2 linked regions of the Homo sapiens genome follow. The protein of the gene in region 2 purifies or fractionates together with the protein of the main gene of each other region. This does not show direct contact. Each region holds a gene or a part of one and is shown on either strand. Other genes may lie near its edges.

Evidence for each region. Proteins that work in one complex are often made in the same cells at the same time.
Region 1: the proteins of PRPF40B (region 2) and GNB5 purify together in Homo sapiens (affinity purification with mass spectrometry; 2 studies listed by BioGRID and IntAct, with this or other methods). This does not show direct contact.

The regions. Positions count from the first base shown.
Region 1 is NC_000015.10:52,181,369-52,188,407, reverse strand, and holds part of GNB5 (guanine nucleotide-binding protein subunit beta-5), read left to right. Parts: intron 1-3,713; 5' UTR 3,714-3,731; coding exon 3,732-3,857; intron 3,858-7,039. UniProt on the Homo sapiens protein: Enhances GTPase-activating protein (GAP) activity of regulator of G protein signaling (RGS) proteins, such as RGS7 and RGS9, hence involved in the termination of the signaling initiated by the G protein coupled receptors (GPCRs) by accelerating the GTP hydrolysis on the G-alpha subunits, thereby promoting their inactivation.
Region 2 is NC_000012.12:49,640,528-49,645,171, reverse strand, and holds the end of PRPF40B (pre-mRNA-processing factor 40 homolog B), read right to left. Parts: exon of another isoform or gene 3,265-4,644; coding exon 3,148-3,264; exon of another isoform or gene 2,938-3,147; coding exon 2,800-2,937; exon of another isoform or gene 2,593-2,799; coding exon 2,497-2,592; exon of another isoform or gene 2,246-2,496; coding exon of another isoform or gene 2,243-2,245; coding exon 2,156-2,242; coding exon of another isoform or gene 2,152-2,155; exon of another isoform or gene 1,950-2,151; coding exon 1,775-1,949; exon of another isoform or gene 1,482-1,774; coding exon 1,420-1,481; exon of another isoform or gene 1,312-1,419; coding exon 1,168-1,311; coding exon of another isoform or gene 1,073-1,167; coding exon 980-1,072; 3' UTR 507-979; downstream 1-506. UniProt on the Homo sapiens protein: May be involved in pre-mRNA splicing.

The sequences.
Region 1 (7,039 bases), on a different chromosome or scaffold from region 2:
CTCTGAGTGGTGGGATTATAGGTGATTATCTTCTTCCTTATATCTTTTTTTCCCCCAAACTTTCTACAATGCATATGTATAATATTTACAGTTTAAAAATGCTTTAAATTTAGTTTGTAGCTTGCCCATGTTTAACCAGTGAGGTCTAAAATGCTAGCTATGTGATACGACTTAAGGCCCATAGGACTCAAAAATTGGAGTCTCCGTTAAAAAATGGTGTTTTCCAGTAATATGCAATGACGTGAAGATGAAAATGCTATTATATAAAGTAGTATATGGCATATAATTCCAATTTGTTAAAAAGTACACACATATATACTTATAAAGATACTAGAGGAAAACATAAAATGCCAACAGGTCAGTTGTTGGTGTAGGGCATGTGGGCGATTTACTTTCCCCTTTTTGTGTCCTTCTGTTTCCACTTATTTATTTATTTATTTTTAATTTTTAATTTTCTTTGAGATGGAGTCTCACTCTGTCACCCAGGCTGGAGTGCAGTGGCATGATCTCAGCTTACTGCAACATCTGCTTCCCGGCTTCAAGTAATTCTCCTGCCTCAGCCTCCCGAGTAGCTGGGATTACAGGTGCGCACCACAACGCCAGGCTAATTTTTGTATTTTTAGTAGAGATGAGGTTTCCTTATGTTGGCCAGGCTGGTCTCAAATTCCTGGCCTCAAGTGATCCACCCGCCTTGGCCTCCCAAAGTGCTGGGATTACAGGCATGAGCCACCACACCTGGCCCTGTTTCCAGTTATTTATAATGAACATTATCAGCATCTTTTATAATTTGAAAAAATTCAAAATTTAGTTTGAGAAGAAAAACATTGCCTCTATCTAGATATGGAATATCGGCTATCTTTTCAACTTGTCTTTCTCTCCCGTGCCTCCCAGCCATCCTTCTATTCCTCCTCCACTTGGTGCCATAGGTTCCTCTCGCCTTCCATTCCCATAGCTGCTCCTCTGTCCGCAGCTCATTTCCTCTTCTCCAGAACATAGCAATCTCTTAACCTAGTTTGTTTTCCTGCCGTCCCTTCTCTCTCTCTCTCTGACCTACTTCTGGAAGCACAAATGCTGGAATAATCCACGTGGATGACACTGCTCCCTTGCTTAACAGCCTGTGGCTCACCGTCCTAATGCTATTACTGGGAGTGTTCAGCCCAACCTTGTTACTGGCTGCCTTTACAGGGCTGGGGAGTGGGATGCAACAGTTACCAAGCCCCACCATGGGCCAGGCTCTGGAGGGCAGGCCCTTTTTTGTTAACTCACCTTTTGTGACAAAACCATGCAGCTTGACCATGCTAGCTTGGAAATAGGGTTCCAAAGTGTGTATTCATGCTACTTACAGACTCAGCTCTGCCGCTGACCTTGAACTTGTTTAATCCCCCTGCTTTTCCTCAGCTGTAACACAGATGTCCTGCCTCCCTCCCAGGGAGAGGCGAGGGCTGGGCACTCTGTGGCAGTTGGTAGCTGGTTTCCTTGCGAGCTGTTGTCCCTAAGGGATGCCCTGTACACCTTTGTTGCCCAGAGGTCTCGAACTGTGCTGACTGCCCCTTTGCTGTAAGAGCTCAGCCCAACTCATGAGCCCCCATTATCTCTCCAGCCCCAGGGTGGGCTCCACATGGCAGACGTTCCTCATCAGAAATGTCCCCAACTGTCACCTCCCCCATAAATGCATCCCTCTCAGATTTGACTCTGTTGAAATGTTCAGACCAGCGCCCCCAATTATCTTTATGTTCAGGGGTTCATTTCTTTGAATCTTGACGGGGCTCACTCTAGAACACCTACCAAATTGACAGGGCCACACTGGCTGCTCCCTTCCCCCTTAACCGCTTTGTCCTCATCTCCAGCAATGGCAACATAACCCCTCGGTCTCCCAAAGAAATCTAGGCCACAGCACCCACATCTCCCTCTCCTCAACTCCACATGCCAAATCCAGCTCCTTCTCTCTTTCCTAAGCATGGTCCAAGTCCATCCCACTACATTGCTTTGTGGGCCTAAAAGGAAGAGGCTGTAGCACAAACCAAGACTTAAGGAGTTTACTTGAGCCAAAGTGAGGACAGATTCCTGGAAGGCCCAGACCCAAGTAACCTTGGACATTATCTCTGTTTGGCCTTTGTTACAAGCAGTTTTTTTAAAAAGGCAAAAAAGAGGGACCGGGAGTGGGCTGATACAAAGTTGTTAGGAATTCTCATTAGTTTACAGAAATAACATTGATTAGCGACTGGTTATACATTGTTACACTACAGGGTGTGGGTTATAGTGTCCAGTGTGGCATTATTAGGTTATTTTTTAGCTACTTGTGCCAATGGCAAGCAGTTTCAAGAGATGAGGCCAGGTGTGGTGGCTCATGTCTGTAATCCCAGCACTTCGGGAGGCCGAGGTGGGTGGATAACTTGAGGTCAGGAGTTTGAGACCAGCCTGGCCAACATGGTGAAACCCTGCCTCTACTAAAAATACAAAAATTAGCCTGGCATGGTGTCTTATGCCTGTAATCCCAACTACTTGGGAGGCTGAGGCAGGAAAATCGCTTAAACCCAGGAGAACGAGGTTGCAGTGAGCCAAGATTGTGCCACTGCACTCCAGCCTGGGAGACAGAGAGATACTGTCCCAAATAATAATAATAATAATAATAATAATAATAATAATAATAATAAAAAGATGAATACACAGCTCAAAGTGGGGACTAGAACGTTATTGCTGTCTCATTTTCATGATTCTCTGGGCCTGATAATTTAAAAGGGCTTGCATTCCTCAGATAAAAGTTACTTTCTCACCTTTAGTCCATGACTTCCTCGCGTCTTGTCTGAACCGTTGCCATAGGCTCCTCTTATGCTTTCTTTGGCATCCCCAGCCTCACCCTGCCCCTACCCATGTCCCTCCTTCCCAAGGCAGCCACTGTTCCCGCTATTGCTGCCACTCAGGGCAGCATGACCTCGCTGGCACACTCCCTGTATTACCGACCTTGAGCTAAGTGCTTTACGCACTGACTCTTATCATTCTCTTGACAACCCCAGAAGGGTAGATTTTAAGATCTCCACTTGACAGATTAGCAAAACCAAGCTTCAGAGAGGTCAGCTAACTAGCCTCAGTGGTGGGCCGGGACCAGGCAGCCAGAGCCTGTCCCTGTAACCACTAGATGCTTGTGCTGCCTCCCTGCAGCGGCCTGGGCCTGTCTGTTGACTTCCTTGTGAACAGGCAGGGACCCTGGGTCTTTGGCTGTCAAATGTTTAATAAGTGAGTGCTTGCCTTGCACGGAACCCACACCACACTTACTCAGGCCCCTGGCTTTGGTTGGGGTCAGGCTCCATCATTTGCTGACCCTTATCTTTAAAAGTTCACCCTGAGGGGAGGAATGTTTTTAAAAGTTTTAAGTTATAGCATCCATTACAAAAACGTTTTCCATTGTGAAACCCCACAGAATTGATATTGTGCTGCAAGGATCAATCCTGCCTGACGCAGGTCTGCCAGCTGCCAAAAAACTGGTTAAACGTGTTAAGTTCAGAAAACCTATTGTCTGATGCTTTCTCACTGATTAAATGAGTTGTATTGACCCAGCATGTTGTAATAGTTGAAAGGTTATAAATTAACTGCATATACTCTATCCCACATGTAGACGTCTGAATAGCTACCACGGTACAAGCAAGAAGAGATTTTAGAAAGTTAAAACCATTGGCTTTTCTCACACCCCCTCCCTTCTTTTCACTTTTTTTCAGCTTTATCTTGGGTAAAAGATGTGTGATCAGACCTTTCTCGTTAATGTATTTGGCTCATGTGACAAATGTTTCAAACAACGAGCTCTGAGACCAGTTTTCAAGAAGTCTCAACAACTCAGCTACTGTTCAACATGTGCAGAAATTGTAAGTGCCACTTAAAAAAAATTCAGTTATCTGTCTTAAAACAGTCAAGCGAGGGTCCTGTGACAGATGAGATGCCATAGAATCAGCTTATATAACACACACTTTTCAGTATGCCTGGGCTTGGTGAGGCAGTATAGTACAGAGGTTCAGGGTGTGGACTCTGGTGTCTGACTGCCTGGGTCCAAATCCTATTGATGTTCCTAGTTATTGGTGTGCAAGGAGGTTCTCACCTCTCTCCTGAAGCCTGTTTTTCCCATCTGCAAATAGGAATGCTAATAGCACCTACATCATAAGAGTTTTATGATGATCAAATGATTTCATTTGATAACTTATTTTAAATAGTACCCAGCAAGGAAAGTACTCAATGAATGTTTTAGCTTCTATTATTTCTTAGGGCTAATACTTTTTTCTTCTGACTTCTACAAGTCTGCTTGGCAGGCAATCAAGCTAAAAGAGAAGCTGGCAAATAAACAGTCTAGGAGCATCTTTCCAAGGACCGGTCCCAGTGGTGTGTAGGTCCAGCTCTAATGAAGATGGAATCTCACAGGGCCTCAGTAGTGAGCAAAATTCAGCTCAGAAGTACTCCTTGGGCCTAAGCCTTCAACAAAGACTAGGAATGGAATACAAATCCTGGAATTTTTCAAAGTACACAAAATCAAGTCCTCACCAGAGGTGGCTGTGCACAGGCTTCAGATCTTGCAGCAAAAATGCCCACAGCATCACTGAAGCCCTAAGAATTAGTCCTATCTCTGAGAATTTGCAAAGCTGCGCTCAATAGTGCAGCTGAGCAGAGCCCCCACTTGGTGAAAAGTGGTAAAGCACTCCTCCTGAAAAGCCCAGTAGGAAATCCCCACACATTTAAAAAAACAACAACAAAATCCATAATACAACCAAAGAGAGGAAAGATGACTTTTACATTTTATCTAACTGAAAAAGAAAAGGCACTTTTTATCCTCCTGATTCCACTGTAACCCCTGACCATGATTACATTAAAAATTATTCCCTTAAAGCAAATAGCAAGTAAACAGCCCAGGGTGGCATAAAAAGGCTTTGATACAGCATAGCAATTTGGATATGTCTTCAGCCTAGGTGTAGTGGGCTTCTACCTGTAGTATATTTCTACAGTCTACGTTCTAACTTGGCCCTGCAAATTGTAGAACTGAGGACATTTAGTTCTTAAAAATAAACCTGCTTTCTGGGGGCCTTACCCCCCCCCCATTATTTATTAATCTAACTCTTCTGCTTTTTAAACAACTTCCTCTGCAGGTGGAATAAGCCCAAGAATCCCAGATTTTGAGTCCTCTGTGGCACACAGGTTCTCCCTAGCACAGGGGCCATGCCTGGAGATACTTTTCTAGGGAATAGTTGCCAGCTAGCGCTACTATTAGGTTGGGGCAAAAGTAATTGCGGTTTTTGCCATTGCTTTCAATTGAAGCAGTGGCACGATCTCGGCTCACTGCAACCTCTGACTCCAGGGTTCAAGTGATTCTCGTGCCTCAGCCTCCTGAGTAGCTGAGGTTACAGGCACAAACCACTATGCCTGGCTAATTTTTGTATTTTTAGTAGAGAGAGGGTTTCACCATGTTGGCCAGGCTGGTTTTGAACTCCTGACCTCAGGTGATACACTCACCTTGGCCTCCCAAAGTGTTGGGATTACAGGTGTGAACCACTGCGCCCGGCCCACACAATCTTACTTAATTCTCATAACAATTCTCATTGCTTTCAATTGAAAGCAATGGCAAAAACCACAATTACTTTAATACAATCTCTACTCTCTACTTGGGGGTTCCCAAATATTCAGACAGCATCATTCAGCTGAAGAGACATCCAGTGACTGACAGCTGGCCTTTCATCCAACTGTTTGGGATTATGTAGACACAGTCCCCATTGGGCCCTTTTTGTGAATAGGAGTGACCCTTTATCTCAACCACTGTGGAATGTAGCTGACCTCAACTTTTCTGATATCCAGCTTCCTCAGTGGGAGTTAACACCAAAATACAAGAAAGTACTTGGAAAACTGCCTAACCATTAAAAGTCTGATGGCCTCATCTCTAGATAGTTGACTCTCCAGGTTGGAGGCTGTTCGAGGTTTATTTTACACAAAGAACCCCCAGAAGAGGGCACACACCAGTGAGAAGTACCACGTGCCTCAGGTCTTCACAGCCAGGAGGACCTTGAACCACACACACATCCTGCAACGGTCCAAACAGAGCCAGCCTAAGGAGGTGATGAGATGAGGCTGCCTTGCCTGGGCCCCCTGAGATGGCCCTTGTGAGAAGAATCCCCCATGACCCAGTGTCTCATTTAAATTACCTCATGTGAACTGCTCAAGCGTATCAGGCAGCCTCAGTAATAATAACAGATGCATACTGTGTGCCACGCACTGCTCTCTCCGAATGCCATACAGAGTCTGAAGGAGGTGTTGTCCCCCATTCACAGATGAGGAGCCTGAGGCACCACAAGTAAATCCCTCAGGCCACAGAGCAGAGCCAGGATTTGCCCCCAGGCAGTCAGATCTAGATAGAGCCTGTGCTCTTAACCTTTTGCTTTACAAACTCTCAAACAGGTGTAATATTTTTGCTTTTATATATTCTTATCTTATACTTAATAATTGTATTTATATATTTATTCATTTATAAACATGTTTGTTATATGTTTATATTTTTAACATAGTTTATACAGATTTATATATTTTATATATTTTTTATACATCCATTTAATAAACTAGCATTAACTGAGCACCTACCATATGCAAGTACTATGCTAAATATCTAAATACTAAGGAACAGCGACAAGTAAACCTATTATTATACGGATGGGAACGGAAAAGAGAACTAGCAGTGAATAAGCATCTGCTATGTACGGAGAAGTCTGCTAAAGTCTTCACCCACACTATCTTACCTTTTTTTGTTTTGTTTTTGTTTTTGTTTTTGTTTTTTTTGAGTCTTGCTCTGTTGCCCAGGCTGGAGTGCAGTGGCACGATCTCGGCTCACTGCAACCTCTGATTCCAGGGTTCAAGCGATTCTCGTGCCTCAGCCTCCTGAGTAGCTGAGGTTACAGGCACGTACCACCACGCCCGACTAATTTTTGTATTTTTAGTAGAGAGAGGGTTTCATCATGTTGGCCAGGCTGGTTTCGAACTCCTGACCTCAGGTGATACACCCACCTTGGCCTCCCGAAGT
Region 2 (4,644 bases):
GAAAGGGTGTGCCAACTCTTCACCTTCTTTCCTCAGCTACGGTTTTTTTTTTTTTTTTTTTTTTTTTGGCAGGGGACAAGGAGCATGGTGGTCTTGGCTATTTGCTTACCTTCCCGTTTCTCCTCTGCCCCTGGAAGGGAATGTGGGGGCCCACTTTTTTGTACATGTACCACCTCCCTTTCCTCTTACTGTACATAAACCTCAGACTCTCCCCCTCTCAACAAAGGCTTGATGCACCAGGCCTGACTTTGTCTCCTCTTTCTGAGCTTAGGGGGCTAGGGTGGCCATTTAGTCTGACCTGGGCTATGGGGATAGAAAAGAAATCTTTGGGGCACTGCATCTGTTTTGGAGGAGATGAGATCAGAACTCTGGGGAAAGGAGAACCGGCTAGGTGGGCTCTAGCCACACAAAGGGAAGCAGGCCTGCCATGAGACACTAGTGCCCTCTGCTGGGCATGTGTCCAGTCCCCAGCCTGCCCCAGTAGCACATGGAAAAGAGTCACTGGCCATGTTATAAATATTGTTATTTAAAAAACAAAAAACAAAACACACGTACATTAGGTCCTGGGTGGAGGAAGAAGTGGTGGAGCCTCAGGGCCAGGGCAGGCAGGAGCAGGCACTGATGCTAGAGGGTGATGACCCTGCCCTCTGCCACCCAGGCTGCGTCCAACAGCCTGTGACTCTTCCCTGGAGACCCCTTCTCTCACACTTTTATCTACTGGCATCACCCACCCCACATGGCATATACCACCCATCTCTGGTCTGGGGCTGAGGGCAAGGACTGCACTAGTCCAGGGAGTAGGGGACCCTTGAACACCAAGAGCAACCTTGAGAGGTGCCAACAATGGTGTGCTGGGGGTGGGGTTACTTTAGAAAAAGTGGACACAGACCAGACTAAGGAAGAAGTCTGAGGCAGACGGTGAGGGTGGCCCAGGAGCCATGGCCTCACACAGACCCGAGGCAGAGAACAGCTCATTGGGTCACTGGTGATCATCCAGCTGCTGTAGGAGTGTCCGCCGCCGCCTCTCCAGCTCACCCTCACTCAGCTCACTTTCTGACGTGTCCCAGCCTGTCTGTTGGAGCAAAGGCACAGTTCACCCTTAGCCTGCACTAAGGGCCGTGGAAGCTTGACCAGCGTGCTGACTGGCCTAGGGCCCCTGCCCCTCACCTTCTCCTTCTTGATTCCAAAGCCTGGGGAACGGTTAGGGAGCTCTGCCTGTTGGAGCTCCCTGTCCTTGTCCTGTTCTTGTTCTTTCTCATCGCTCTCCTTGCCAGCTTTCTCCTCAGGGTCTGTCTCACTCTCAGGACTATTCTGTAAGAGTCCAGAGCCCACCTCCTCAGTTCCTGTGGATAGCCTGGGAGGCAGGTAGAACAGAACTCACAAAATAGCAGGGGCTTAGGTAGAAGTTCCTTCACTCACCGACTTGTGTCTTCTCTTCTTAGTTTTCTTTTTTGGTTTCTTGGCTTTCCGAAGGCCATGATCTAGAGATAGAAAAATCCCTACTAAGTCCCAACAGGAGAAAGACAGGCTCTTTTTCTTTGTTCTAGCCCCTCTGTTCATTCTTCACAGGCAGGAACCTCATGCTCTGAGGAAGTCTAAGTCCAGTTTTCCTTCTCCAGCTTCTTGCTTGGGCAGGTAGAGGAAGTTCTTTCTACTTCCACAGGTGCAGCCCTCCCAATCCAGTCTACCCTCAAAGGAGCTGGGGCTTGTGGAGGGCATCCTCTCAGTCTGGGACAACAGTTCTCCAGCTTCTACGCTCACAGCAACTGCTTACCTGCTCCAAGAAGATGGGAGGAAGGGGAGCCCCGTCCTCCAAGGGCAGCACCCCCACTTTCAACTGAATCAAGTGAGGAAGAGGGCTCAGAGCCTGACTCTGAGGGGTTCCGCCTCCTCCGCTTGGGGGGCCGGAGAGATGGTGGGGGCAGCTCCTCTTCTTCTGACTCAGAGCCCTGGGCAGATCAGCAGATACATGTCAGTGCAGAGGTTCTCTGCCCTCCAGAAGCCCTCGTCTGGGAATTCGAGAGAGGAGGAGGACCCAGGGCCAAAGGAATCCTCAAACTTCCCTCCAAGGGAGATATTGTAAGGGGAAAACAAAGTGTTTATTTCCCCAAAACAACCCAGCTTCACCCCATGTCCCTTCTACACGCTTACTCACTGAGGGTGAGTGGGAACGCTTGTGATGGTGCTTCTTGCCTTTCCTGCCATGCTTTCGGCCTTTGGTGTGGAGGTGCTGGCATTCAGTCTGCTAGAGGCAGAGGAAGAAGGGTGAGGACAGCACCAGACTTAGCCCCAGGAAGGATCCTACTTCCTAAAATCTGGCTTTGCCTCCCTTTCTCAGACTAGAGCCTTCTGCCTATCCCAGGGATCCTCAGGCCTCCCCTTCCTTAGCTGGCCAGGAGTGCCCTAAGGGTAAGAGGGAGGCCACTGAGGTCTCTGTTGAACTGGTCTAATGAGTTCAAGGGCCTGAGGCAGATCCAGAGGACAAGCCTGCCTCACCTCCAGCACCTGTAGGAACTCCCGGAAGAGCCGGATCCGCTCCGACTCCAGGGTGATCTGCTCAAAGGCTGAGTCACACACAAAACGCTCACGGACCTTGAACGAGGAGAGCACTGCTGATCAGACTAGGCCCCACTCAGCCTGGCCTGGACACCGCCATGAGCACAGGGCAGGGCTGGGGCAGAGAAAGGAAGGGAACTGGAGCTGGCCCAGGGCTGTGACGTGACTGGGGTGGGCCCTCAGTGGTGAAGCACCGCTGCCCTCAGGCTTGAGGGGTGCTTGGGGCCAGGCTACGCTCCTGACCTCTTCCCAGGCAGTGCCTAGCTCCAGAGCAGGCACAGCCTGCCTCAGCATGCTTCGAAAGGCAGCTTCCCTGCGCCGCATCCTGCGTGCCTCCTCCTTCTCCCGCTCCCTCTCCCGTGCCTCTGCTTTCTCCAGCAGCTGAGGAAAGAAGGGACACGGAACAGGGTCACCCAGGAGGGTGGATGCCAGGTCCCACTCAGGCATACCTTAGGAGGTGGAAAGTTAGGGTCTGGGCTTCTACCACCATCCCCTGAATTGGGAATATAGTCAGTGGGACAGTGAGTGAGAAGGAATGGAGCAAGACACAGATGAATTAGAGAACTTCCCACGCCCCGCCCAGCCCCTCACACTATTGAAGGTCAGCTTGATGTTGCCTGCGTCCAGTGCGGCAGCCCTCTTGTCAAAGCTTATGACGTGGGCGAAGTCCTCAAAGGCCGTGTTCACCTCCACGCAGAAGCCCCGGTCCTGTGGGTACAGCAGTGCATGAAGCAGGGGCACCACGTGCCTGAGGCCAAAGCTGGCAGGCAGAGTGGTCACATTACAGATGGTCAAGAAGGCCCTTGCCTCTGGAAGAGATCCACAGGACTGTGGTCTGCATTAGAAACCAAGTTATCCAAGTCCTCATCACTTGACAATTAAGCCCCCATGCCTACCCTTGGTTTGGATGTCACACAGAGCTGAAGGGGTTGGGAGATGTCTCCCAACTGCTGATTAATGCTGAGTTTCTCAAAATTAACTTTTGTTCCTTTGGCTTAAAGCTCTGGCCCCAGCTGGGCCCTCCTGCTGCTCAGCAGTGCTTCCATGCATTCTCAATCAACATTTGCTGGCCCCTACCCTTTGGGTCTATTTATTGAGTGCTTACTATGTACCAGGTACCATGATGAGTGTTTCACACATTATCTCATTTAATCCTCTTGGTTCTACATTTAAGAATAGGTCCTAGTATCCTAATTTTACACAGAAGGAGAAACCAAGGTTCAGAGAAACTAGAGCACTTGCCCAAGGTCTCACAGCTGATATACGGCTGGGCAAGAACCCTACCCTGGGGGGGCTCTCTATCCCCAAAGTGTCTGCTTTCAAGCACCACACCCACCCAGATGACTTAGTCCATGGGAGAAACGGAGGCCACCAGGTGTGCAGCTCCCCACCAATACTAAAAACATGTCCACAGGCCAGGCTCTATGCTTCTCATTTAGGCCTCACAACATTCCAGTGAAGCAGAGGCTTAGAAAAGTGATCTCAGTTGGCCCAAGATGACATGAGTGGTAAATGAAGCCACTGGAGTTCAAAGTCTGGCTCTCACGTCAGTTAAGCACAGGCCAGATTCCCTTTCTCTCCCTCCACATAGCTCTCACCTCCTCTGGCCTTTTTGCTGATGGCAGAGGTGTGCTCCTCTTTCTTCTTTCCAAGGGTACTTCCTCAACCCTGCTACAGTCCTTATCAACACAGCATTCATTCTCAGGGAATTGAAAGCTCCAAGTCACCCTTGTTACTGGCTCCTTCCATCAAGCAGACACCTCACCTAACCTGGAACATCCTTTCCACCATGCTCTCCCCTTCATCAAGCTAACTACCTCTGCTCTTTTCCATTGTTTCAAAACCTCTTGAAATGCAGCAGAAAGGAAAAGGAATAAACATTTATTGAGAACCTATTAGACACTTTACAGATGTTATTTAATTCTCACAACCTTACCTATGAATTATCCCTGATTTACAGGTGAGCAAACAGGCTCAGAGACACGGAACTTACGGAGGTCTCAGAGCCAATAAGCAACCAGGAGTAATCTGACTCTAAAACATGTGCTGCCCCCATGCCACCTCCATGACTCTACTCTCCCAAAGGTT